Linked DNA regions of Homo sapiens. The protein of the gene in region 1 purifies or fractionates together with the protein of each later gene. This does not show direct contact. Each region holds a gene or a part of one and is shown on either strand. Other genes may lie near its edges. The genes, in order: DCAF12, MOV10, GOLIM4 and MCMBP.

Region 1 (7,632 bases):
AATAAATTCAACAAGCAAGAGGCTATGATGATTAATTCAGTTTACAATTCAGTAATATTTGCTAGGCTAAACACTATGATGCACGTGCGGGGAGTGGAATGAACTCTTCCAAGCAGGAGACTCTTTTTCTACTCCAAGTGACAAGGATGACAGTTCTTAACCACGAGTGGGCAGCTGGAGAGACCAAGAAAAGGAAGTTCTGTGGAGGCCCGTTGCCACCACTTAGTTTTGAAAGGCTTCTGGGTAAGACAAGCGACTCCTCAACAGAAGAGGAAACGAAAGGTTGGCCCCAACCACCATGGTATTATTTCCTTCCTCAAAACTGTTTAAATTTTTGCCTATGTCCTTTATAAACAGACCAACCACCATGGTATTATTTCCTTCCTTAAAACTGTTTAAATTTTTGCCTATGTCCTTTATAAACAGACACTTCTCCTAGTACTTAAGACTTTCTTGATCTAGAGCAATCTTCTCTCTTTTAATGATCCAAAATGTGTTTCATTCCAGGGTCAATTTACTCACACATTATGACATTACTTGTCCATTCACACAGGGGAGGTGAAAACCGAGGGAGGGCTGGGCGTAATCATTTCCCACCCCTAGGCCCTAGGCCCTGCCTCTTTTCATTTGCCAGTCTTGTGACATCATGCTATTCGTGGACTCTATTCCAAACGTTTCTGCTCTTTGACTTATTTTATCCTGGCCTATAATTGGGTTGGTTACAAAGCTTACTGAGAAATTTTTCACTTCATTCATTTATAACTGTCTTTCTATTCACTCTTAAAAAGGCTACTTTCCAAAGAGCTAATGCTTATACCCTGAAATATACTACCAGACACACATTCCCTGCCTTCCTTATAGGAAACAGTTCATGTATTTCTCATATTTCAGTTTATACATTTTTAGATTCTGTTCACTAAAAAACAGCCAAGTGTGCTATTTTAAATACTTCGACATACGTTCTTAGGCTGTTTTCACTATTATGTATCCTGAATGATGCTCTAAGCATCATTATTTCTTAAATCTTTCCTTTGAGGCCTATGACTTAAAAACCAGCATAAAAATATGAGGCAAAAACAAACAAACAAACAAACAACCCTCTAGAAGCAGCACATCCAGAGAGGGCCTGAAGAAATACACTCCTTTGAGGACTTATCAGAAAAGAAATGTATGAGTGAAAAAAGGAACACGAAAAGAGGAAGAAGTCACCAACGGGAAAGAATGGAAAGGAGAGTAAGGCAAGTCCCTCCTAAAAGAAACAGACGGGAAAACTAGCAGAGGTTCTAGAGCAAGTGGAGCAATATATCCACGACCTAGGAGAGAGGTCACATCCCCCCAGGCACTTACCGTGTTGCATTTTGTGCCACACACCACTTGCCTATGATTCAACCACTGAGATGCAAACACTTTATTAAGGGTCCCAAGGTGAAACTCTCTCTCCTTCAGGAGACTGGGAAGTTGCTGTGCTGCATAACCATGCAACACTCGAGAGTAGCTGGTTTCATTCTGTAGCCTGACTTCCCGGTTCTTCAAGTAGTATACTAAGGATCTCTTCACAGGAGGAAGTCTTTTCCTTTTGTGAAGCGAGTGATCCCAGCCAAACTGTGGAAACAACATTAGAAATCAGGGCTTTGGCTACTCTTCTTCAGAACAGATCCTACTGTATTACAGAAATCACCAACTCATAACTCATACTGCAGAATTTACAAACAACACAAATACAAACACAAGAGAACAAGAATCTCAATCCAGAAAGTCGTTTAACTCTTCCAACATTAAAAAGATGTTGCTCACAGTCAAACTTACCAATGTGAATTACAAGGGCTGAAAGTCAAGGGAATGAATGCAGAATAGAACAGACTAAAAGGTTTACTAGACATTTTAGGAGTGAAAGATTGAAGGAAATGAGAGGTAGAGTGATTCCCATACCGACATGGGCTGCATCTCTACCCAGCCCCCTTCTCCCTCTCAGTCTGTACTCCCACTGGAGCACGGAAGATACAGTCCAAGGAGCCAGACCTGGCTCCCAGGTCTTCCAGGGATGCATCATCAATGACCGTTCCTCTGTCATCATGCCCGCGCTCCAGGCAGTTGCAGAATTCGAAAAATCAACCGCCAACGGGGTAGTAGGCCCCCGGGAAATCAGAGGCCATATCTATGTCCAAGAAGGCCTTCCCCTCCAAAGGGGGCGGCATAGAGATGATACCTGGGAACTGTTGTTTCTTTTGGGGTCCAAACGCCGAAAGGCCCAGCTCAGGGTTGGGTATACATATAGGGAGACTACTTCCTTCTTCCAGGAGGGACGCAATCATCCCAGCTTCCTAGGGCCCATGGAAGGTAGAGTTCACTCTACCAGAGTTTGTTTCCGATTCCCTTAACTTCGGTTTCCCCTTCCTCCAAAGCCAAGATTCTGGTTTCTTTTCAAGCCCTATCCACGAATGCAGGCCTCCCGCGGATTATGTCCCATTCCTGAGTTCCCCTTTGGCTCCTCACCGCCCTGGCCTATCTGCCCTCCAGTTAACGAGGGTCCAGTCCTGACCCTATAGGCCCTGAACCCATTCCTGTTTTGCCTCTGACTGCAGACCCTGGACCCCGATTCCCGTCGCAGGATCTGCGGACCCTAAGCCCATCTTGGTTCCTCAGCCTCACCACCCAGGTGCCGGCCTCTCAACCCTCACCTGCGGGCCCTGAGCGTCGCTCCCAGCTCCCGGCGAGGCGGGCGCTTTCCGCTTCCTGCTAACTACTTTCCGGGCCATAGTGGGCAGCGCCGCCGCGGCCCCGCAGCCACATGGGGCGGGGGAAGCGAAGGATAGCAGGACGGCGGGTCATATACTGGGCCCCGGGGCCGCGCACCTTAGTGCGCCCGGCCCGGAAAATGGCCCGGACCCGGAGCGGCAGCAGAAAAAAGATAGGCGGAAAGAAAGGAAAGAGAGAGGAAGGACTTGAGCCGGGAAAGGGAAGGGGAAGCGAGAATGAGCGGCTTTCCGACGGCAGAGCCTGCAAGGACGGCGAGCGGCTAGAACCAAAACACCCCCTCCCCCTTGCTCGCGCGCCGTCACCCTTGCGCAGCCGCACTTCGGATAGCGTCGCCACGGAAACACCGCCGGAACGAGATGGGCGGGATCTAGGGGTTGGAAGATAGTTCTCTGGTGTTTCCCGGCCGCCGCCAGGCCATTTTCAACGGTTGTTTGGCTACTGCTGGATGGAAGTGGACGAGCTGGGGCCAAGGGAATCTGGCTTCTGGCCGCCGACCTCCGACCCCAGCCCGCCTATCCGCAGGCACCCGGAAGTGAGGACCACCAGTGCTGCTGGGGGAAGGAATCCTCCCTAGTGCAGGCCTTAACCCGGTTACCTCCCATCTGGCACCAAACGTTTCCCTGAATCTGTCACAAACCGTGCCCTGGCTCCAAGGGCTGGACAGGGGGGTGGGGGGGTGGGGGGCAGGAACCGCTCCCACCCTCGAGGTGAAGTCCAGTCAGGAAGTCAGGGCAGTGTGGCCAGACTTTCCCACCACTGAGAACCTGCCCAGCACAACCAACCCAGGCCGCCCTACGAGTCTCTGGCTACCCTCTTCCCACCGCTGGGTAGCCCTGAGGCTCCATTCTCCGCTCTGTCTCCTCCTGATCCTTTCTCCTGTCCGAAATGCTTCAGCCCCTCAGTCAGTTTCAGCTCCTCAGTCACCTTCCCCTTACGGTGCAACTTCACCATTCCCTTTAGATTTCCATGACCTGCCATCTAAACCACATGGTCTTTTGTGCTTTATGAAGTAGTCATCACGCTGTAAACTTATCTGTAGCTGCCTGCCTCACTCTTGGATTCAGGTTGCGTCTCCATTAGGGCAGGTCGGGAATTCTGAACTACAGGAAAGAGAGTGGTCATTTTTGGCTTGCCAGTCCAGTTAGAGCTGGCATTGGCCTCCAAACAAGGGGGCTTCATCAGGATCACCCTTGCCAACATTTTTGGAAGATCCTGAAGGAATATGACTGCCAGCCTTCGCTTTCCTCAAGCAAACAAACCCTCTGAGGAAGCAGGATGCTCTTGCTTGGGGCTGATTGGCCTCAGGCTGTGGTGCCCAGTTACCTGCTGGTCACTTCAGGCTTCAGGCCTCAGGCCTCATACCTCCAAGGAGCTCTGTTGGACCATCTCAAGTTCTGTCAACAAGGAGATTTGGATTTGTTTTCCAAGCCGAATCAAAGACCAGATTGAAGCAGGGTCTCCTGCCATCCCAAGTCGGCACTACCACTAACCCCTAATGTCTTGCGAAAGGCAGCTCCATCTTATTTGGTCAGGCCTGTCCCTTTAGAGATATGCACATAGTGAGTGGGTCAGGAGTGGGTCAGCTTTCTTTTTTGAGTCTGTTCTAATTCTGTCTTGCCCCGCAATGCTCTGGATGACCCAAGAGCCCCTGGGCAAGAGTCTGGAATCCTTTGAGAATCTCTAGGCTCAGATTGGGCTGTCAGTGCCAAGAGGGGCACACTGGGCACTGCTGCAGTCTCTTTCTCAAAGTTCCTTTACTTCATCTTCACAACCTAGGAACCATCCCCAAATGTACCTTATAGCAGAGCTCGCGATTTCTTTTCTTTTTTTTTTTTTGAGATGGAGTCTCACTCTGTAGCCTAGGCTGGAGTGCAGTGGCACGATCTCGGCTCACTGCAACCTCTGCCTCCTGGGTTCAAGTGATTCTCCTACCTCAGCCTCCTGAGTAGCTCAGATTACAGGTGCTCGCCACGTTGCCCAGCTAATTTTTTTTTTTCTTTTTTGAGACGGAGTCTCGCTCTGTCGCCCAGGATGGAGTGCAGTGGTGCGATCTCGGCTCACTGCAGGCTCCGCCTCCTGGGTTCACGCCATTCTCCTGGCTCAGCTTCCCGAATAGCTGAGACTACAGGCGCCCGCCACCACGCCTGGCTAATTTTTTGTATTTTTAGTAGAGACGGGGTTTCACCATGTTAGCCAGGATGGTTGCCCACTAATTTTTGTATTTTTAGTAGAGACGGGGTTTCACCATGTTAGCCAGGATGGTTGCCCACTAATTTTTGTATTTTCAGTAGAGATGGGGTTTCGCCATGTTGGCCAGGCTGGTCTCAAAATCCTGACCTCAGGTGATCCGCCCACTTCGGCCTCCCAAAGTGCTAGGATTACAGGCATGAGCCACCACGGCTGGCCAAGAGCTCACCATTTCTATTCAAATAACAGAATGAAAGTCCATTTTGGAAATTTAATTGACAATTGCCTTTAAAAGACTGCAGGCCAGGTGCGGTGGCTCACGCCTGTAATCCCAGCACACTGGGAGGCCGAGTTGGGCCAATCACCTGAGGTCAGGAGTTCGAGACCAGCCTCCTGAGTAGCTGGGTTGCAGTGAGCTGAGATCATGCCACTGGACTCCAGCCAGGGTGACAGAGCAAGACCCTGTGTAAAAAATAAAATAATAAAATAATAATGATAACAATAATAAAGTAGTAGAGTGGCTGGGGGAAAAAGTACTCAGGGCATGTAACTACTCCAAGAATGGCATTCTTAGTGAGCCTCACTGCTGAAACTGCGTGCTATAATCTGAAAGCAGTTTTATCTAATAGCTGTTAAAACAACCTACTGTGACTCTCAGAAATAGTTTTACTTATTGCCTTCACTTACCAATCAAAACTTGCCAGCTCTCCAAAACCTTACTAGTGCCAGTGAACTTTCTTGAAGAGCAATACATAACACTTCCTTTTTACAAAACTTCCAACCTTCTCTTTGTTCTGCAGACATGGCAAAGACCACCCAGTCTGCGTGTGCCCTGAATTACAATTCCTGCTTCACAAAACATTTTAATTTTAGAGATTCATCTATATATTTTATTTCACCTTGACAAAACTGTGTGAATGAATTTTATAATATTGCATAAAAGATATCAGGCCAGGCGTGGTGGCTTACACCTGTAATCCCATCACTTTGGGATGCCAAGGCGGGTGGATCACCTTAGGTCAGGAGTTTGAGACCAGCCTGGCCAACATGGTGAAACCCCCTCTCTACTAAAAATACACAAATTAGCTGGGCATGGTGGTGCCCGCCAGTAGTCCCAGCTACTCAGGAGGCTGAGGCAGGAGAATCGCTTGAACCCAGGAGACCAAGGCTTCAGTAAGCCGAGATCGAGCCACTGCACTCCAGCCTGGGCAACAGAATGAGTTTCCGTTTCAAAAAAAGAAAAGAAAAGAAAAAAAAATCAAACACACTGCTGGGCACGGGGCTCACCCCTGTAATCCTAGCACTTTGGGAGGCTGAGGCAGGTAGATTGCTTGAACTCAGGAGTTTGAGACCAGCATGGGCAACATGGGAAAATCCTGTCTCTATAGAAACATACAAAAATTAGCTGGGTGGGGTGGCATGTACCTGTAGTCCCAGCTACTTGGGAGTTGGCAGGCTGAGGTGGGAGGATAGCTTGAGCCCAGAAGGTGGAGGTTGCAGGTGGAGAGCCAATATCATGCCACTGCACTCCAGCCTGGGAGATCCAGACCTGTCTCCAAAAAAGTCAAACACAAAGCAGTAATTCCTTTTTTTATTTTTATTTTTTGAGGGACAAGTTCTCGCTTTGTTGCCCAGGCTGGAGTGCAGTGGCATGGCATGCATGTGCCACCACACCCAGCTTATTTTTTATCTTTTGTAGAGACAGGGTCTCGCCTGGTTGCCCAGGCTGGTCTTAAACTCCTGGGCTTAAGCGATCCTCCCACCTTGGCCTCCCAAAGTGCTGGTATTACAGGTATGAGACACTGAGGCCAACCAAAGCAGTAATTCCTAAATGTAATTAGTAAATGCCTAATTTCATGTTTTTGAAGTATGAAAACAGGCACAACTGATCCATGGTAAGAGAAATCAGTCATTACCCTTAAGCGGGATTACTAACTGGCAGGGGACCTCAGGGAGCCTTCTGAGGTTCTGGAAATTTCTTTTTTTTCTTTTTGAGACAGAGTCTCATTCTCCCACCCAGGCTGGGGTGCAGTGGCACGATCTCAGCTCACTGCAACCTCTGCCTTCCGGGTTCAAGCAATTCTCCTGCCTCAGCCTCCCAAGTAGCTGGGACTACAGGCCTGCGCCACCACACCTGGCTAATTTTTGTATTTTTGGTAGAGATAGGGTTTCACCGTGTTGGCCAGGCTGGTCTCAAACTCCTGACCTCAGGTCATCCACCCACCTCGGCTTCCCAAAGTGCTGGGGTTACAGGCATCAGCCACCATGCCTAGCCTGGAAATTTCTTTCATTTTTCTTTTCTTTTCTTTTTTTTTTTTTTTTTTTTTTGTGAGACAGTCTCGCTTCATTGCCCAGGCTGGGTGCAATGGTGCAATCTCAGCTCACTGCAACCTCTGCCTCCTGAGTTCAAGCGATTCTCCTGCCTGAGCCTCCTGAGTAGCTGGGATTACAGGTGCCCACCACCTCGCCTGGCTAATGTTTTTGTATTTTTAGTAGAGATGGGGTTTCTCCATGTTGGTCAGGATGGTCTCGAACTCCCGACCTCAGGTGATCCGCCTGCCTCGGCCTCCCAAAGTGCTAGGATTACAGGCGTGAGCCACCACTCCTGGCCCTAATTTTTGTATTTTCAGTAGAGGCAGGGTTTCCCCATGTTTGCCAGGCTTGTCTAGAACTCCTGACCTCAAGTGA
Region 2 (7,026 bases), on another chromosome or scaffold:
ATGCAAGAGGGAGCCTGGCAGGAGGCCAGGGAGCTGGGGAACAAAGGGAGGCGGCAGCTGACCTTGGTGCTCTTCTGAGATACGGAGCCAGCAGAGGCCTAAGCTCCTGGAGCCTCTGCCTAGTGGTCTGGATATTAAGGAGGTACCATCTGGGGGAGGGGCCCCACCCTTGCTGGTAACTGAGGACCTGACCTGTTTCCGGTACGGGGAGATGACGCCCACACTTCGAGGGCTCAGGCGAGCTTTGCCCTTCTTGGAGGAGGGGGCCAGGAGCAGCTTCAGGTAGGAAGTCACTGTGGCAGCCTCTTCAGGGTTGAAGAAGGATGGGCTGTTGCCTTCACGCTCATCTTTGCCCATTACGCCGTGAAAGATGATGGGAAAGCCCTGGACATGGGGTCGGGGGAAACCGTCAGCCAGACCACCCTCCCTCTATTCCCTCCCTTCCCAAACCCTTCCAGAGAGTAAGAGATCCTAGGCCAAGGTGACAAAGGGAGGGGCTGCACCTTCAGTGGGAGGGAAGTCAGGGTACAGGGGTGGGGCCTGCCCTGCTCAGCCTCACCTGTCGAGGTAGGCCCGCCCAGCGGCAGAAGCGTTCTCGATCCACGACATCAGCACAGGCCTGCAGCTCCCCTTCATAATAGAGCTGGTTAGGAATGTCCAGGATGGTGGGATGAGACCTGGGAGGCCGGAGGAGGAAAAGCAAGACCAAGGGTCAGATTCCCTCTGCCCTACAGGGGCTCCGCTCTACCCACTCTGGGCCCACACACAATAGCCTGCTACCCCGCTGGCTCCCTGGATAGCAGGACACTCCTCCATAATATCTGCTGCCAGGCACTGTAAACCACAGAAAGCAGAACCAAATATAGTTCCAGAGAGCATCTAGTCCAGGGACTCCACAGACCCATGACATTTAAAACTAAATAATTAGGGGCCCATTTTCAGGTTTCAAATTTACCAAGGACAGTACGAAACCAAATTCTCCTTGACTATCACGTTATTTGATGAGACCATGTGTTAAATCAAAAAATATAAGCAGTGATGACACAATAACTAACATTTATTGAGCTCTTAGTGACAGCATAAAACTTATCTAAGCATTTTAGATGGCTGAACTCATTCACTAAAAGTATACAGCTCTTTAATTTGAATAACAATAGGTTTATGAAAAAACTGTATCTTCCCTATTTTTCTTTCTTTTTTTGAGATGGAGTCTCGCTCTGTCACCCAGGCTAGACTGCAGTAGCGCGATCTCAGCTCACTGCAACCTCTGCCTCCCGGGTACAAGCGATTATCCTGCCTCAGCCTCCCAAGTAACTGGAATTACAGGTGCCTGTCACTATGCCTGGCTAATTTTTGTATTTTTAGTAGAGATGGGGTTTCACCATGTTGGACAGGCTGGTCTCAAACTCCTGACCTCAAGTGATCGGGGGTGGGAGCCTGACCTACCTTGGCCTCCCAAAGTGCTGGGATTACAGCCATGAGCCACTGTGCCCGACCTCCTCCCTATTTTTCTTATCTCTCCTTGGATTGCCTGAAAACTTCATCTGGGACTGGTACCAGACACACCCTAGCCTCTAGGAACCACTGACCACCCCCTAAGATGCAGATAAGCTGACTGGTGTAGTGTGAAACCACTGGCTAAGTCACGCAGACAACAAGCAGCAGTGCTGGGGCTAGAAAAACCTCCTGCCTTCCAGTTTAGTCTTTCTGCATCACACAACCTCTGAGCAACAGGACTGACAGCAAGCCAGACTCTCCAGTGGGGTCTGCATGCAGGATGTGAAAGCATAGGATATGGCAGGGGAGGCAAGGGCATGGGAATACCTGTAGTTGCGGAGCAGCTTGGTTATGAACTGGGGGTCATAGCCATCAGGGCCCTTCTTGTACAGGGAGTTGTAGGTGAGCAGCCGCTCCAGCAGTGAGTATCCCAGTCCATGCTTCTGGGTCAGTGGGGAACGCAGCACAGGCCCCAGCTGCCGAGGGTCTCCTGCCAGCACCAGCTGCCCTCCTGGATCACCTGTTTCCTTTACTTCCATCAGCCCTGGGAAGCAGAAGAGGTGTGGGAAGAAAGGTAAGTGGTGCAACCTCTCTGACCCACACAGGGTGTATACCTGCAGCCCCACCTGAGTCCCTCACCTGCTATAGCTACCAGACTCTCAGGCTCCATGCAGTGGCCAGCCTCATCGATGAAGATGTGTGTGAAGTGATCAATGGGAAACTGGGCCGAGACCAACCTGGGAGGTGTCAGGCCAGGCAGGGGTCATATCCAGGCACCCAACTACCAAACCTGAATGCTTTCCCAGGCTGGCTTCTCAGCACCCACCACCCCACTCCGGAAACCATTCTTCCCCATTTCCCCAGCCCGGTACCCCTTTAATTACACTTACGATTCAGAGACACACCCACACACACTCCCCACCTGCCGGCAGTGATGAGGGTGGTAATTAAGACCCGGTATTCCTGCAGCTTCTTCTTGGCGGGAAATACATACTCCCCCTTCTTTGCGTCCCAGTTGCAGCAGGGCTGTGGATTGTGAAGGGACCAGAGGAATCAGCTTGGCTCCACTCATTCCCACCGTGATTCTGGCTGTGGGTACCCCCCCTCAAACAATTATTTTTATTTTTTTTAATTGAGACGGAGTCTCGCTGTCCCCCAGGCTGGAGTGCCATGGTGTGATCTTGGCCCACTGCAACCTCCGCCGCCTGGGTTCAAGCAATTCTCGTGCCTCAGCCTCCCGAGTAGCTGGGGCTACAGGCACGCGCCACCATACTCAGCTGATTTTTTTGTATTTTTAGTAGAGACGGGATTTTGCCATGTTGGCCAGGCTGGTCTCAAACTCCAGACCTCAGGTAATCCATCTGCCTCGCCCCTCAAAGTGTTGGGATTACAAGTGTAAGCCACTGCACCCAGCCCCCCAAATGTTTTATCCACCCCCCTCACTTACAGACAAACTGAGGCCCAGGGAGGGGTCCTGTCCAACCCAAGGTCACATAGCAAGTATCAGAATCCAGGTCTCCTAGCTTCCTCGCCTCAGTGTCTGCCCTGAGAGCCTCCCCGGCATTTGCCATTCTTTGGCCCTCTGCACTTCCCTAGTACCTTGATGTCCTCAGGTACCATGCGGATGTCCCTGCTGGGGGCCAGGAGGCGGTAGATGGAGCTAGGAAGGTGGACCCGGAGCCTTTGACAGAGTAGGTCAGCCCCTGAGTTGGATGGAGCGCAGGCCAAGATGTGGGCTTTGGGCAAGTGCTTCACCACCTGAGATGCAGATAAGCGCAGTGTGGGAGGCAGGTTCCTGAGACTCAGCCGTACCCAGGCTGGGGCAGGGCAAGTCTATGATGACTGAAATGTGAATGGTGACTCCAAGATTCATGCAGTGCCCTACCCGTACAACAGTGCTCCACAGCCACATTTACCCTAACTTCCCACTTCCCCAATCCCCACCCTTTTTTTTGAGACAGAGTCTCACTCTGTCACCCAGGATGGAGTGCAGTGGCACAATCGCACTGCAGCCTCAAGTGCCCAGCTATTTTTCATATTTTTCATAGAGATAGGGTCTTGCAATATTGTCCAGGCTGGTCTTGAACTCCTTGGGCTAGTCTTCCCCAAGTGCTGAGATTACAGGCATGAGCCACTGCACCCGGCCCCTACCTCTCTTTCTGATGGCTGCTTAGAAGCAGGAGCATTTCGGGAGTGGGAAGGAACTAGAATCTGGGGACAACTGCTTGGTGCTGGGGGAATCAGAGTGCAGGCCCCAGGTTTGTGCTCAGACCCCACCTGCTTAATTGCCTCCACTAACGTGACAGTCTTGCCGGTGCCTGGAGGCCCAAAGATGATGTAGGGGGCTGGACGGGTGGTGCCCGTAACAATGTGCCTCATGGCCTGCAGCTGCTCTGGGTTTGACTCCAGACTCCGGTCGTACAGCCTGGCAGAGGGACCAGGAATGTGAACTTGAAGTCATCCAGTGACCCAGAGGCCTCCCTGACTCCACCCCCTGTGCCCACACTCCAAGTGGCTCCAGAAGCTCCCTGCCCACAGTCTCACTTGAGTTTCACATCTGAGGGCAGCAGCGGGACGTCCCGAGGTGCCACAGGAAAGAGCATGGGCCACAGCAGCCAGCGCCCTGTCAGCTCCAGGGCACGGTGCTGGACTCGCAGCGGCTGGCGGTTGAAGGTAAAGTTCACCTTGAAGGTCAGCCCATCCACAAAGCGGCTCAGGAGGCTTTGGGCAGAGAGAGGTGGTAAGAGTTTGTTGGGGCAGGGGAGGTGGGCAATAAAGGGCCAGAACTTTCTCCACCAACCAGTGTCCCAACCCCTCTTTCCAAGACCTCTATGCAAGTTCTCTAGAAGAGGAAGCTGCCGTAGCATCTCAGGGTACCCCTGAGGAAAAGTCTCCTGCTCTGCCCCGGGGTCTCATTTATCTCAGGGAGAAACACTCCTCCTCCCCTGGGGTCAGAAGTCTGTAGACCCTTCCAGCAGCTCAGGGTTCCCCCAACACCCACCTCATGGAAAAGCTCAGCTTGACACGGTCCAATTCCACCTTGTGCACAAAGCCCTTATATGTGATGGGGTCCTCCTGGTGTGTCTCCGAGGACAAAAGGGCAAACAGGTGGTCGCCCCGTAGCACTGAGGGGCGGCTCTCAGTCACTCCAGGAACCTATGGGGTGTGAACACAAGCAAGCTTCTGTCCCAGGGATGGACGCTGGAGGGCCCAGCCCCCAGGTTCCCCAGACCTTTAAGGGACAAGGACTGAGACTGGCCTTCTAACCTAAGACTCAGGGAGTTATGCTATCCCTGCACCCCTCTTTCCTTTCATACCAGCAGGAGTCAGGGGAAGAGGAAGAAGACAAATCCTCCGAAGCTGCCCAGAGATGCCGAGCCCAGGAACCCGGAGCCTCCAGTGCAGCTGCCCTCTTGGCCAGCTCAGTTCCTGCTCTGCCTATAAAAATCCTGTTCATCAGTTAATCGGGTTGCTAAAAAAATAATTAAAAAAAAAAAAAAAAAAAAACGGACCAGGCATGGTGGCTCACGCCTGTAATCCCAGCACTTTGGGAGACTGAGGCAGGCGGATCACTTGAGTCCAGGTGTTGCGAGACCAGCCTGGCCAATGTGGCAAAACCCCATCTCTACAAAAAATACAAAAATTAGCCAGGCGTAGTGGGGCATGTCTGTGGTCCCAGCTACTTGGGAGGATCACTTGAGCCCGGGCGGCGGGGATTAAAGCGAGCCAAGATCATGCCATTGCACTCCAGCCTGAGCACCAGGGTGAGACCCTGTCTCAAAACAAAAACAACAACAACAAAAAACTTGTTCAAAACTCACTTCCTGCAGTAATCTTTCCTTGAACAAACTCACCCTCTAATTCCCACCTGCAATTGTGTGTAGAAATCCATTCTCGTGTGTAATTTTGGGCTTATATGCACACATTGAAAATCCAAGAGCCAGAAAGAGCTCTAAGAATTATCCAGTCCAGCTCTGTGCTTTTCAGATAAGGGAACTAAGGCTTAGAGAAAGCCAGGGACTTACCCAAGGTGGTAGCAAAGCCTGGACTAGAACCCAGATCTTCCCCATTTCCCTGCTCCAACACATCTTTGGGCACAGGATGCCCACCCTGCTTCTTGCGGAGCCCTGGGAACCACTTCAACTTTCCTCTTGTTCTGCCCTGCTGTCAGGAATAGTTCTGCCCACAGCCTCTAGCTTGGCTGGCTTGAGCCCACCCTCCTCACACTCAATCTGAGCCCTGACCTCCAGCGTGAGCAGCCTGGGGTTCTGGTCCACAGGGTCCCAGGTCATGGGCACCGACTCCAGGTCATAGTGCCGGATATCATGCTCCATCTGCAGTTCCTCCAGGTGCAGCAGCAGCCGCAGCTTCACCTCATAGTTCCTCCACTTCAGGGCTGTCTCCAGCTGGGCCCTGGAAATGATGGTTGGGAGGGGTGAGTGGGGGCAGGAACAGGATGGGCCAGACAACCCCTATGCCCAGGAGTATCCACCTTCTCCCACCTGAAGCTCTGGAACTAGCGTCAAAAAGCAGAGAAGACTAGAGGGATACAGAAGTGGATGAGAGTCAGAGGCCCTGAAGAAGGAAGCCTTGGCTCCTGCTTCCTTGGATGCCCCTGCCCCCACCTCACCCGACTTGCATTTGCATGGTGGCTCTTATGGCCAGAACATTCTCCTCCAATCCTCTCATGACTCCCACCCTCACCTCATTCAAATGTCCTTCTCTGTTCAAACATCACTACCTCAAACAGGCCAGGACTAACTGGCCTTCTGCAAAGCAGCACCAACCCATTCCCTAACCCTGCTTTAGTTTCAGTATAGTTCTGTTCATCTTTTTTAGAGACAAGATCTTGCTCTGTCACCCATGCTGGAGTGCAGTGGCATGATCTGGGCTCACTCACTGTGTCCTCAACCTCCTGGGCTCAAGAAATTCTCCCACCTCTGCCTCACAAGTAGCTGGGACTACAGACATGTGCCACCACACTTGGCTAATTAAAATTTTTTTTTGTAGAGACAGAATCTCACTATGTTGCCCCAGGCTGGTCTTGAACTCTTGGGCTTAAATGATCCACCTGCCTCGGCCTCCCAAAGTGCTGAGATTACAGGCATGAGCCACTTACACCTGACCTGTTTAGTTCTTCACAGCACTCATCACTCCATGAAATTGTAACAAAAATGCTCATTGTCCCCCATTAAAATGAGCCAGGCCTTCATTTGACTGGTTCACCTTGAATGGTGCTTGGTGTATGGTGCGTGCTCAGTAAGGGAATGAATGAATACAGCCTGGGAGGCTGAGGACGGAGGTGCCAGGGCAATGCAAAGAAGCCAGTAGGTAAAAGACGGGAGAGTGCGGGGTGCAGAGGGATGGTACTTACTTGATCTCTGCGATCTCCTTAGGGGCAGTGAAGATACTTGTTCCCTGAAGAAGCATGGGGAGCAGCTGCCTGAGGCGGGGAGGTGGGTAGTATGTCCCCAGCGCCATACTTAACTCCAGGTCATAGCCCTTAGCGCTGCAGAATCGAGGGAAGAA
Region 3 (7,026 bases), on another chromosome or scaffold:
CAATCACTCAACTGGAACAATCAAAACCATCTATGAGTGTGGTTATTAAAAAATAAAATTACGTTCATACAATGGTAGAAAATGAAATGTTTTTATTAATTTGATTATTAATACAAAACCACACATATATGAATTATATAACCTAGTGTTATATATTTAAAAATCTTTATGCTTGCAACTGAAATGTCTCTACTCCAAGGGAAGTTTCTGATTTTTAATTTTCTTATTTTAAGGAATCTATTATATTCACAATGATTAAAATGCCTTACACATAGGCAAAAAGCAGACCCAATCCCAGCAAACAGAAAAACCATAAGTCTATCATATCACCATATGTTTCACCATATAGTTTTGAAAAATAATCCTATTTGCAGTTTGGTATGTCTTCATATTTATACTTATTATCAAAGTGATTGCATATTGAGGCACAGAGCTTAAAGAGGAAATATATATTACTTATAGGGAACCAGACACTGAAACAAGAATATCAATCAATGGCTTCAAACAAAAAAAAAAAAAAAAAATTGAGAATGGGTGCTCGCATAGAAACACCACACGCAAACACTCATTAGTTTTTAACCAAGTCACTAGTCCTTCCAAAAGGTGAATATGTTGATGTGTCCATACCTTGTTTGAACACTGCAATACCTGATTAAGACCAGGATACTGCCACATGAGTTTTAATACTCTCTCATTTTTAAATTCAATTCCTCTTAAACAGAACAGCTATGATTTTAAAGCAATGACATTTTTCTAATTGATCTGAAAAGTCTGAAAAACAATGTCTTTACAACAAAAATGGATTTCCAATTGTATGTCACTTTGTACATAGATCTCACTCCAGAGATACATAGACTGGTGAAAATTCTATCAGAGCTATACATAAAGACATCAGAAGGGCAGCAATTAGTAAACAGGCCATTCTCTTTAAAGTCTGCATGGCATTTTGCAGTACTCTCTGTTCTTAAATCCTGTATTTTATCAAAGGCAAACAAAGAACACCTGGGAACTGGAAGCCAGAAAGGTAACACGCTGAAACATATACAAAATCAATGAGCTTTCCAACATCACATAATCTATTAAAAAAATTGGGACGTGGGGGCTCAGGTTTACTTTATTGTTTTTCTTCTTTTTCATGTTTAGCTTGAATATAAAAGAAGCTCTAGACCTACGTTATCAAAATATATTCATATAAATGTATGCGCATTTCTAATACAAAAGTTTTAAAAAAGTCTAAGTTCTTAATTTTTGTAATTAAATATCCTAGAGTTCAGTAGGCAGATTTATGTTTGAGCAGCTTGAAAAGAATCCGTTGGCTGAGCGTTGTCTAGAAATTGGGTGCCGCTACATTTCAGCTCTTCGATGTGATTTCTCAGCAACTGCAGCCCCGTCTTCTTCCTCCTCTTCTTCCTCCTCGTAGTGTTCCTCTCGGCCTTTGGGGCGGTTGTCATCTCGAACTTCTTGCTCTTCTCCATCATTATTTTTATCATCAGTCTTAAAATTAAAAGAAAAAAGAAAAACTAAGAGATAGTATAGAGTTAGTGATAAATAATTCTCTCTAAAAACAGGATGAAAAATTACTCATTTTTGGAGGAAAAAAAAGGAAGAAAAATGATATGTAAGCAACAGTGCTGCTGTCTCTCCTACTTTTCATGTTGTCACAACTTTTCCTAATTTCAGGTGGGCCTGTTAAATTCAGTGGTAACTCAGAGGTACCATTACCCACTGGTACGTATCCCAAATACATATATCTCTCCTATACACATGCACACCCACAAACACTCAAGTGCTCAATAGAAATATGTATCCCGGTCATACATTTTCATCATTTTCACCATAGGTCTCTTCAGCATTATGCTCCAGTTCCCTTTTTTTCTCTTCAGTCAAATCTTCCTGAACCTAAAACAAACCACAGATATCATTTAAACACTTTTGTCTTTCAAGCACTTGCGATAATATATTTTGACACTGTTATCATTTAAAGACTTGCAATAATATATTTTGATTTCCAAAAAGTTCACTCAAAATAGCAGAAGCAAAATTAAAGTAAATATACAATTGAAAAAATATGTCAAGGATTTATCTACTAGGTGTGAAGAAATGTATAAGGGAGGAGCCAAGATGGCCGAATAGGAACAGCTCCGGTCTACAGCTCCCAGTGTGAGCGACGCAGAAGACAGTGATTTCTGCATTTCCATCTGAGGTACCAGGTTCCTCTCACTAGGGAGTGCCAGACAGTGGGTGCAGGTCAGTGGGTGCGCGCACCATGCGCGAGCCAAAGCAGGGCGAGGCATTGTCTCACTTGGGAAGCTCAAAGGGTCGGGGAGTTCCCTTTCCGAGTCAAAGAAAGGGGTGACGGACGGCACCTGGAAAATCGCGTCACTCCCACCCAAATACTGCGCTTTTCCGACGGGATTAAAAAACGGCGCACCACGAGATTATATCCCGCACCTGGCTTGGAGGGTCCTACGCCCACAGAATCTCGCTGATTGCCAGCACAGCAGTCTGAGATCAAACTGCAAGGCGGCAGCAAGGCTGGGGGAGGGGCGCCCGCCATTGCCCAGGCTTGATTAGGTAAACAAAGCAGTGGGGAAGCTCCAACTGGGCGGAGCCCACCACAGCTCAAGGAGGCCTGCCTGCCTCTGTAGGCTCCACCTCTGGGGGCAGGGCACAGACAAACAAAAAGACAGCAGTAACCTCTGCAGACTTAAATGTCCCTGTCTGACAGCTTGGAAGAGAGCAGTGGTTCTCCCAGCACGCAGCTGGAGATCTGAGAACGGGCAGACTGCCTCCTCAAGTGGGTCCCTGACCCCTTACCCCTGAGCAGCCTAACTGGGAGGCACCCCCCAGCAGGAGCACACTGACACCTCACAAGGCAGGGTATTCCAACAGACCTGCAGCTGAGGGTCCTGTCTGTTAGAAGGAAAACTAACAAACAGAAAGGACATCCACACCAAAAACCCATCTGTACATCACCATCATCAAAGACCAAAAGCAGATAAAACCACAAAGATGGGGAAAAAACAGAACAGAAAAATTGGAAACTAAAAAGCAAAGCGCCTCTCCTCCTCCAAAGGAACACAGTTCCTCACCAGCAACAGAACAAAGCTGGATGGAGAATGACATTGACGAGCTGAGAGAAGGCTTCAGACGATCAAATTACTCTGAGCTACGGGAGGACATTCAAACCAAAGGCAAAGAAGTTGAAAACTTTGAAAAAAATTTAGAAGAATGTATAACTAGAATAACCAATACAGAGAAGTGCTTAAAGGAGCTGATGGAGCTGAAAACCAAGGCTCGAGAACTACATGAAGAATGCAGAAGCCTCAGGAGCCGATGCAATCAACTGTAAGAAAGGGTATCAGCGATGGAAGATGAAATGAATGAAATGAAGCGAGAAGAGAAGTTTAGAGAAAAAAGAATAAAAAGAAATGAGCAAAGCCTCCAACAAATATGGGACTATGTGAAAAGACCAAATCTACGTCTGAATGGTGTACCTGAAAGTGATGGGGAGAATGGAACCAAGTTGGAAAACACTCTGCAGGATATTATCCAGGAGAACTTCCCCAATCTAGCAAGGCAGGCCAACGTTCAGATTCAGGAAATACAGAGAACGCCACAAAGATACTCCTCGAGAAGACCAACTCCAAGACACATAATTGTCAGATTCACCAAAGTTGAAATGAAGGAAAAAATGTTAAGGGCAGCCAGAGAGAAAGGTCGGGTTACCCTCAAAGGGAAGCCCATCAGACTAACAGCGGATCTCTCGGCAGAAACTCTACAAGCCAGAAGAGAGTGGGGGCCAATATTCAACATTCTTAAAGACAAAAATTTTCAACCCAGAATTTCATATCCAGCCAAACTAAGCTTCATAAGCGAAGGAGAAATAAAATCCTTTACAGACAAGCAAATGCTGAGAGATTTTGTCACCACCAGGCCTGCCCTACAAGAGCTCCTAAAGGAAGCGCTAAACATGGAAAGGAACAACCGGAACCAGCCACTGCAAAATCATGCCAAATTGTAAAGACCATCAAGACTAGGAAGAAACTGCATCAACTAACGAGCAAAATAACCAGCTAACATCATAATGACAGGATGAAATTCACACATAACAATATTAACTTTAAATGTAAATGGACTAAATGCTCCAATTAAAAGACACAGACTGGCAAATTGGATGAAGAGTCAAGACCCATCAGTGTGCTGTATTCAGGAAACCCATCTCACGTGCAGAGACACACATAGGCTCAAAATAAAAGGATGGAGGAAGATCTACCAAGCAAATGGAAAACAAAAAAAGGCAGGGGTTGCAATCCGAGTCTCTGATAAAACAGACTTTAAACCAACAAAGATCAAAAGAGACAAAGAAGGCCATTACATAATGGTCAAGGGATCAATTCAACAAGAAGAGCTAACTATCCTAAATATATATGCACCCAATACAGGAGCACCAAGATTCATAAAGCAAATCCTGAGTGACCTACAAAGAGACTTAGACTCCCACGCATTAATAATGGGAGACTTTAACACCCCACTGTCAACATTAGACAGATCAACGAGACAGAAAGTCAACAAGGATACCCAGGAATTGAACTCAGCTCTGCACCAAGCGAACCTAATAGACATCTACAGAACTCTCCACCCCAAATCAACAGAATATACATTTTTTTCAGCACCACACCACACCTATTCCAAAATTGACCACATACTGGGAAGTAAAGCTCTCCTCAGCAAATGTAAAAGAACAGAAATTATAACAAACTTCTCTCAGACCACAGTGCAATCAAACTAGAACTCAGGATTAAGAATCTCACTCAAAACCGCTCAACTACATGGAAACTGAACAACCTGCTCCTGAATGACTACTGGGTACATAACGAAATGAAGGCAGAAATAAAGATGTTCTTTCAAACCAACGAGAACAAAGACACAACATACCAGAATCTCTGGGACGCATTCAAAGCAGTGTGTAGAGGGAAATTTATAGCACTGAATGCCCACAAGAGAAAGCAGGAAAGATCCAAAATTGACACCCTAACATCACAATTAAAAGAACTAGAAAAGCAAGAGCAAACACATTCAAAAGCTAGCAGAAGGCAAGAAATAACTAAAATCAGAGCAGAACTGAAGGAAAAAGAGACACAAAAAACCCTTCAAAAAATTAATGAATCCAGGAGCTGGTTTTTTGAAAGGATCAACAAAATTGATAGACCGCTAGCAAGACTAATAAAGAAAAAAAGAGAGAAGAATCTAATAGATGCAATAAAAAATGATAAAGGGGATATCACCACCGATCCCACAGAAATACAAACTACCATCAGAGAATACTACAAACACCTCTACACAAATATACTAGAAAATCTAGAAGAAATGGATAAATTCCTCGACACATACACTCTCCCAAGACTAAACCAGGAAGAAGTTGAATCTCTGAATAGACCAATAACAGGAGCTGAAATTGTGGCAATAATCAATAGCTTACCAACCAAAAAGAGTCCAGGACCAGATGGATTCACAGCCGAATTCTACCAGAGGTACAAGGAGGAACTGGTACCATTCCTTCTGAAACTATTCCAATCAATAGAAAAAGAGGGAATCCTCCCTAACTCATTTTATGAGGCCAGCATCATTCTGATACAAAGCCAGGCAGAGACACAACAAAAAAAAAGAATTTTAGACCAATATCCTTGATGAACATTGATGCAAAAATCCTCAATAAAATACTGGCAAAACGAATACAGCAGCACATCAAAAAGCTTATCCACCATGATCAAGTGGGCTTCATCCCTGGGATGCAAGGCTGGTTCAATATACGCAAATCAATAAATGTAATCCAGCATATAAACAGAGCCAAAGACAAAAACCACATGATTATCTCAATAGATGCAGAAAAAGCCTTTGACAAAATTCAACAACCCTTCATACTAAAAACTCTCAATAAATTAGGTATTGATGGGACGTATTTCAAAATAATAAGAGCTATCTATGACAAACCCACAGCCAATATCATACTGAATGGGCAAAAACTGGAAGCATTCCCTCTGAAAACTGGCACAAGACAGGGATGCCCTCTCTCACCACTCCTATTCAACATAGTGTTGGAAGTTCTGGCCAGGGCAATTAGGCAGGAGAAGGAAATAAAGGCTATTCAATTAGGAAAAGAGGAAGTCAAATTGTCCCTGTTTGCAGACGACATGATTGTATATCTAGAAAACCCCACTGTCTCAGCCCAAAATCTCCTTAAGCTGATAAGCAACTTCAGCAAAGTCTCAGGATACAAAATCAATGTACAAAAATCACAAGCATTCTTACACACCAGCAACAGACAAACAGAGAGCCAAATCATGAGTGAACTCCCATTCACAATTGCTTCAAAGAGAATAAAATACCCAGGAATCCAACTTACAAGGGATGTGAAGGACCTCTTCAAGGAGAACTACAAACCACTGCTCAAGAAAATAAAAGAGGATACAAACAAATGGAAGAACATTCCATGCTCATGGGTAGGAAGAATCAATATCATGAAAATGGCCATACTGCCCAAGGTAATTTATAGATTCAATGCCATCCCCATCAAGCTACCAATGCCTTTCTTCACAGAATTGGAAAAAACTACTTTAAAGTTCATATGGAACCAAAAAAGAGCCCGCATCGCCAAGTCAATCCTAAGCCAAAAGAACAAAGCCGGAGGCATCACACTACCTGACTTCAAACTATACTACAAGGCTACAGTAACCAAAACAGCATGGTACTGGTACCAAAAGAGAGATATAGATCAATGGAACAGAACAGAGCCCTCAGAAATAACGTCGCATATCTACAACTATCTGATCTTTGACAAACCTGAGAAAAACAAGCAATGGGGAAAGGATTCCCTATTTAATAAATGGTGCTGGGAAAACTGGCTAGCCATATGTAGAAAGCTGAAACTGGATCACTTCCTTACACCTTATACAAAAATCAAGTCAAGATGGATTAAAGACTTAAACGTTAGACCTAAAACCATAAAAACCCTGGAAGAAAACC
Region 4 (5,930 bases), on another chromosome or scaffold:
GTGTCATCCAGGCTAGAGTGCAGTGTTGTGATCATGGCTCACTGCAGCCTCAACCCCCCCAGGTTCAAGCGATCCTCCCACTTCAGCCTCCTGAGTAGTTGGGACCACAGGCATGTGCCACTGTGCCCAGCTAATTCTTTGTTTTTTGGGTTTTTTTGTTTTGTTTGGGTGTGTGTGTGTGTTTGTGTGTGTGCAGATAGGGGATCTCTTTATGTTGCCCAGGCTAGTCTCGAACTCCTGGGTTCAAGTGATCCTCTCTCCTTAGCCTCCCGAAATTCTGGAATTAGAGGTGTGAGCTACCTCGCCCAGCCCTCTTTTAAGTTTTTGTTTATCTGGGAATGTCTTAATTTCTCCTTAAGGCTAGTTTTGCTGGATGTAGAATTCTTGGTTTATAGTCTTTGTCTCATCATTTCGAATATGTCCTCCCACCACTTTCTGGCCTCTGGTTTCTACTGAGAAGCCAACTAGTTTCTGATAAGGATCCTTTGTACACACTGAGTCATTTTTCTGTCACTGCTTTCAAGATTTTGTGGCTTTTGACAGTTTCGATTATGATGTGTCTATGTGTGGATCTCTGAGTTTATCCTACATGGAGTTTGTTGAGCTTCTTGGAGGTGCAGAATAATTCATATTTTGGGGAAGTTTTCAACAAGTTTGGGAAGGTTTTGGCCATGTTTCTTTCTGCCTCATTTCTCTCTGCTCTCCTTCTGACACTACCACTGTGTATCTGATGTTGCATTTAATGGTATCCCACAGGTCTTCAAGGCTCTGTTCATTTTCCCTCATTCTTCTTTTTTTGTTCTGTTTCTTAGACTAATCTCAGTGAACTTATCTTCAAATTTAGTGATTTTCTTCTGCCTGATCAAATCTGAGCACCTCTAGAGAATTTTTACTATATTTTTCAACTCCAGAATTTTTATTTCCTTCTTCTAAAAAATTATTTCTCTCTTTTTATTGATACTCTCTATTTGGTGATTCTCATATTTTCCTGAAGTTCTTTTTATGTGGTTTCCTTTATTTCTTTGAATGTTTAAAATAGCCAATTTAGAGTCTTTTTGTCTAATGTTTGAGTTTCCTCTGGGACAGTTTTCTACTGACTCCCTTATCCCCAAAGTGTGAGCCATACCTTCTGGTTTCTTTGTACTTTTTTGTTGAAAACCAGACATTTTATTTGGTCAGTGGGGTCTCACTGTATCACCCAGGCTGGAATAGTAAGTAGCACAGCCACAGCTCACTGCAGCCTTAAACTGCTGGGCTCAAGTGATCCTCTTGCCTCAGTAGCTGGGACCATAGGTGTGCACCACCATGCCCAACTAAAGTTTTGTTTTTTTGTTTTTTCTTTTCTTTTTTTTTCTTTCTTTTTTTTTTTGTAGTGATGAGGTCTTGCTTTATTGCCTAGGCTGGTCAACTCCTGGCTTCAAGTAGTCCTCCCACCTTGGCCTCCCAATGTGTTGGGATTACAGGTGTAAGCCACCACATCTAGCCACAACCAGACATTTTAAATTATATAATATGGCAACTCTGCTTTGGAAGTTACTCTGGAAATTAAACCTCCCTAGGGTTTATTGTTGTTGCTGTTTGTTACTGTTGGTAGGTTGTTTAGTAACTTTTTTGACTAATTCTATAAAGTCTGTATCTTTGTCACATGTGGGCACTGAAGTCTCTGCTCTGTTAGTTTTGTGGTTAATGATTGGAAAGAAATTTCCTTAAATGCTGGGTAGTAGTCTCCCAGTCTACGGGTGAATAATAATCATAAATAAAAATAAAAGTTGGGGCAAGCCCTCAGTTCAACACTTAGCCATGCAATTTACAAGCCTTAGCCTTCATTTCCTGCTCGCACAGAGCCTCCAGGTCATGCAGAGGTGGGAGCTATGGTCTCTGAGCATGTCTGCAGCCTTCTGAGTTCCTAGGAGTTACATACTTAAGGTTTTCAGAGCCCTCTACAGACATGTCATTTCCCAGCTAGCTTTTCCATTGAAGGGTTTGGGTTAGTCTGTCTGCCGCAGCTGTTACCCAGTGTCTCAGGTAGCTAAGGTGATTGGTAATTTCTTCCGATTGTTTTTGATAAATGCCCTGGGGAAAGAGGTGGTTCATAGTAGACAGGCTTCCAGTCAGGTTAAATAAAGACAACCTTGCAAATGGGTCCTTCCAGGGAGCCACCAGACAGGTGGTCAGATGACAGTTCTCCGGGAATGGCACTTGGAAGGAGCCCTAGCCCTGTTCTCTCTCCGGTGGCTGCCAGGCTGTTGATTTTTGAAGCTACTAATTATCGCCTGGAGGGGAAGGGGTTGGAATTTAGGAGTAGGACATGTTAAAATGCTGCCAGGCTCAACATTCTTACCAATAATCACCTGGTTTTCTTGCATAAATGCTCTCTGGATTGCTGCAAGTATGGTTTTATTTCTAGTTTTTAAAAAGCTGATTTTGATCAGTGTTAACAGTAGAGACAGTTTTCTGCGGTCCCTTCTCTGCCATTTTCACTAACATCACTCTTCCTTTGTGGAAAAGCATTGTTTCCTATGCCAGTTGCTGATTTATATGTTTGCTTGACCTTAAATGAATCTGAGTTTCATTATTTTATTTTCATCAGCAGCATTATGTATGTATATGCTTTGGTACTTTCACCCATATTGCCTCCTTTGTCTAAGAGGCTGACATGCACCTTACTACATCAGTCAAGGAACCATGTTAATTTTCTTTTCCTTACAAAAATGCACATCATTTACATTTACTCTTTTGATAAAGGCAGTTGAAGATGACTTTGTGGAAATGCGGAAGAACGACCCTCAGAGCATCACTGCTGATGATCTTCACCAGCTGCTCGTGGTGGCTCGGTAAGTGGCGCACGTCCATTATTGCTGTTTCGGTAAGCTTGTGTATATGTCTTCTGAGTTATTCAGCAGTAACTGAGGCAGAATTCTAAAAACGGAAATGAACTTTTCCTTTTAAAAACGCTGTATGAAAGGGCTCATTGAGGGGGAATCGAGTTTGGCTGGTGATCTCTTCAGTGGAACAGGCATGCTGCTTGTTCTCTAAGCTTCAAAGAGTGAGCCACTTTCCAATTCTGACTCTTCAACGATTTCTTTTTAGAAGCCTAACTTGGCTGTTGACTTGTGTGTAACTACCATACGGTCTTGTCTCCTAACGTGCTCTGTGTTTTCACAAAGTATTCCTAGGTCTTAAAAAAAATTTAAAACTTACTATCCCAGCTCTAGACTTAAATTTGTTTCTGTGTTTCAAACCAGGTGTCTGTCTCTCAGTGCTGGTCAGACAACGCTGTCAAGAGAACGATGGCTGAGAGCAAAGCAGCTAGAGTCTTTAAGAAGAACGAGGCTTCAGCAGCAAAAATGTGTGAATGGAAATGAACTTTAAAGATGTAATACCTATGAAGAGTAATGGGCAAACTGTAGCCACATAATTGTAAAATTCAGATATTCATTTATACCACATTGTTTTATAGGTAATTTCTATCACAAACCAGTGACATTTCCTGAAATCAAGCCTGGTAACACCTGATGTTTATATGATATTCAGTAAGGACTTTTACCTTACTGATTTCATGGAGCTTTTGAAGTTTGTTTTATAATAATTATATAAATTAGTAATGATGTAAAAAAAGTATTTGATATTAAAAGTTTAATATTGATAATGTTGCTGATTGTACCATTTCCTTAGCTTCAGCTGAGTCATAGGCCAGACTGTTGAAATGCTGAAATGAAGAAGGTTGTTGCAGTTTCAAAGTCAGAGGAATCGTGCTTCGGATTTCTTATGTTTTCTAGTTCTCTGTTTTTCCAGTTCACAGTGGGTTGGGGTGCATTCAGTAGTCCATCTTTGGGGAACGGAGGCGTACTTGCCATTGATTCACATGACTACATGAAATTCTGTACTGTCATTTCCCAGATGTTTGGCCACAGAAACTTTTTCCCACTTAACATTTGTTAACAGCCTGCAAAACTAAACTTGTACATGGCAGTGGTTCCCAGACTTTTGTATTTTATGGACCGGTAGTAATATTTCCAAAAATCTGGGGTACTATAAGGTTGCCAATTTACCTTGCCAAGTAATCCGAATAAATCACTGTATTATCACCATTTTTTTCATAAAAGGAAAGGACAATCTATCTCTGAATAAGAGGAGTCCTTTAAACGGAATGAATGTGGCTTTTGGGGGCAAAAGAAACCAAGACACTACATTGTCTTTATTTTCTCCTATCCCAGTGCATTTGAGAACCATGCATAAGGGAATGCTGTGCTACAAAGCTGTGCCCAAATATGAAAACAAAATAGGAAACTTAAAAAGCAATACCCCCTTTAGAAAGTTTTTATTTTCTTAAATGTCATTGAGTTGCTTTGATTCTATTGGATTTTTGGCATTTTTTATGGGATCATCAGTTGGTTCCAAGTATGTTAGATCAGCTAACATCTGCTACTCCAGTAACAGCCTCGTACAACTGCAGGTAGGTTTTCTCCAGACCAATTAGTTTTAATAGAGCAAACTAACAACAGACTGTAGTAGCATGGTTATGGCAACCAGAATCTTCAGAAAGGTTAGGACATTACTTTTTAAGCTGTCAGTGGTATCAAATAACTTACCTAGTTGGAGGCAGATAAAGGATCCCTTACGTTTTTTCCTATAAGGCCTAAATTGAAATTGTTAACCAAGGAAACAGGGTCAGCCTTGAAAAATCAAGGAATTCATTGTACCTAATAACTGAAGTAAAAATAACTAGTTGTTCAACTTTTCCTAAACTCAAATCTATTTTTATAAACAAATGTAAATAATGTTTATATTAGAGTTGAACTGGTTTTCATTTTTATAACTGGTAGACTAGACCTTCCTTAAACTTTTAGAAATAAAATGAAGGCTTCACTGGATTTGTGAGGATAAAATACATTTTCTTTAATTGTCCTAGAGCAAAGTACATTAGTCACCATGTGTTTTTTGTGCCAATGTAAATTGTAATTTACCAAAGAAAAATACATACATTGCTTGGTCTTGCAGAAAAGTTCCCTTGAAAGAACCTTTCCAATAAATAAAACGTCCCAAATTAGCAGTACCTTGGGCTGTTTTTCATGAGTAAGAAGATTCACCATCCCATGTGATCTGTGTGGAAAAAGACCATGTCCTCTTGGTGGAAGACATGAGAGAGCTGAACTGAAGTGGAGGAGGTGGTGCAAGAGGGACCTTCCTGCTCAAGGCCCGCCCAGGCAGCGGAATGGAGTGCAGTGCTTGGCTGCAGAAACCCTTTGTCCCTCACCTATATATACACGGACAGTCAAGTTTGTTGCTCTAACGTAAGGCACAGCGTTAATCCTGTATGGCCAGGAAACTGAGTAGACTCCTGTGTAACCCTGTTTGGAACTTTGCCTTCTTAAAATGATTTTTCAAAGATCTCTTTCGAACTAATTTCTGTAGAGTTTAAACGTGTATTTTATCACCTAATGTTGGGTTGTATTTTCTCCCATGTTGGGAACCCTTAATATTTTCAGGACCCGGAAGAAAAGTTGGTAGAAGCAAGCATTCAGTTTTGAATGTTTGGATTTAAAGTATAGTTTCTGATCCATTTCCCTTTTTACATCATGAGTATATTTCAAAGGAGTAACATACTGGCAACAGCTAGACCAAGTGTTCAGTTATAGCAAATCTGCCGTTTACAAATTCTTTAATCTGTTATGCAAGGAATTCTCATACCCATTTGTCACTTTAAATTACAATGGTACTTTATTTTAATAATCACAAGATTTAACACGTAAAAAAAAAAGATAGCACTAATAAATAACAAAAGTGGAATGCTTATCAAAGTAACGACATAATGTTCAGTTGAGAATCAGTCACTTCAACAGAGTAAAGCTCTAAAGACACCAGACGAACCAATACTTGTTGGAATATGCCATACAACTTTCTTACTGTGGGGATTACAGGGGCAGCCC

The links.
Region 2: the proteins of DCAF12 (region 1) and MOV10 purify together in Homo sapiens (co-immunoprecipitation; 3 studies listed by BioGRID and IntAct, with this or other methods). This does not show direct contact.
Region 3: the proteins of DCAF12 (region 1) and GOLIM4 purify together in Homo sapiens (affinity purification with mass spectrometry; 2 studies listed by BioGRID and IntAct, with this or other methods). This does not show direct contact.
Region 4: the proteins of DCAF12 (region 1) and MCMBP purify together in Homo sapiens (affinity purification with mass spectrometry; 2 studies listed by BioGRID and IntAct, with this or other methods). This does not show direct contact.

Annotation. Positions count from the first base shown.
Region 1 is NC_000009.12:34,123,676-34,131,307, forward strand, and holds the start of DCAF12 (DDB1- and CUL4-associated factor 12), read right to left. Parts: upstream 3,024-7,632; 5' UTR 2,757-3,023; coding exon 2,679-2,756; intron 1,603-2,678; coding exon 1,348-1,602; intron 1-1,347. UniProt on the Homo sapiens protein: Substrate-recognition component of a DCX (DDB1-CUL4-X-box) E3 ubiquitin-protein ligase complex of the DesCEND (destruction via C-end degrons) pathway, which recognizes a C-degron located at the extreme C terminus of target proteins, leading to their ubiquitination and degradation.
Region 2 is NC_000001.11:112,691,645-112,698,670, reverse strand, and holds part of MOV10 (helicase MOV-10), read right to left. Parts: intron 7,007-7,026; coding exon 6,872-7,006; intron 5,911-6,871; coding exon 5,742-5,910; intron 4,654-5,741; coding exon 4,499-4,653; intron 4,219-4,498; coding exon 4,042-4,218; intron 3,923-4,041; coding exon 3,775-3,922; intron 3,256-3,774; coding exon 3,097-3,255; intron 2,524-3,096; coding exon 2,420-2,523; intron 2,235-2,419; coding exon 2,137-2,234; intron 2,042-2,136; coding exon 1,825-2,041; intron 678-1,824; coding exon 560-677; intron 385-559; coding exon 193-384; intron 34-192; coding exon of another isoform or gene 1-33.
Region 3 is NC_000003.12:168,008,925-168,015,950, forward strand, and holds part of GOLIM4 (Golgi integral membrane protein 4), read right to left. Parts: intron 1,900-7,026; coding exon 1,819-1,899; intron 1,495-1,818; coding exon 1,345-1,494; 3' UTR 1-1,344. UniProt on the Homo sapiens protein: Plays a role in endosome to Golgi protein trafficking; mediates protein transport along the late endosome-bypass pathway from the early endosome to the Golgi.
Region 4 is NC_000010.11:119,828,916-119,834,845, reverse strand, and holds the end of MCMBP (mini-chromosome maintenance complex-binding protein), read left to right. Parts: intron 1-2,745; coding exon 2,746-2,834; intron 2,835-3,245; coding exon 3,246-3,372; 3' UTR 3,373-5,406; downstream 5,407-5,930. UniProt on the Homo sapiens protein: Associated component of the MCM complex that acts as a regulator of DNA replication.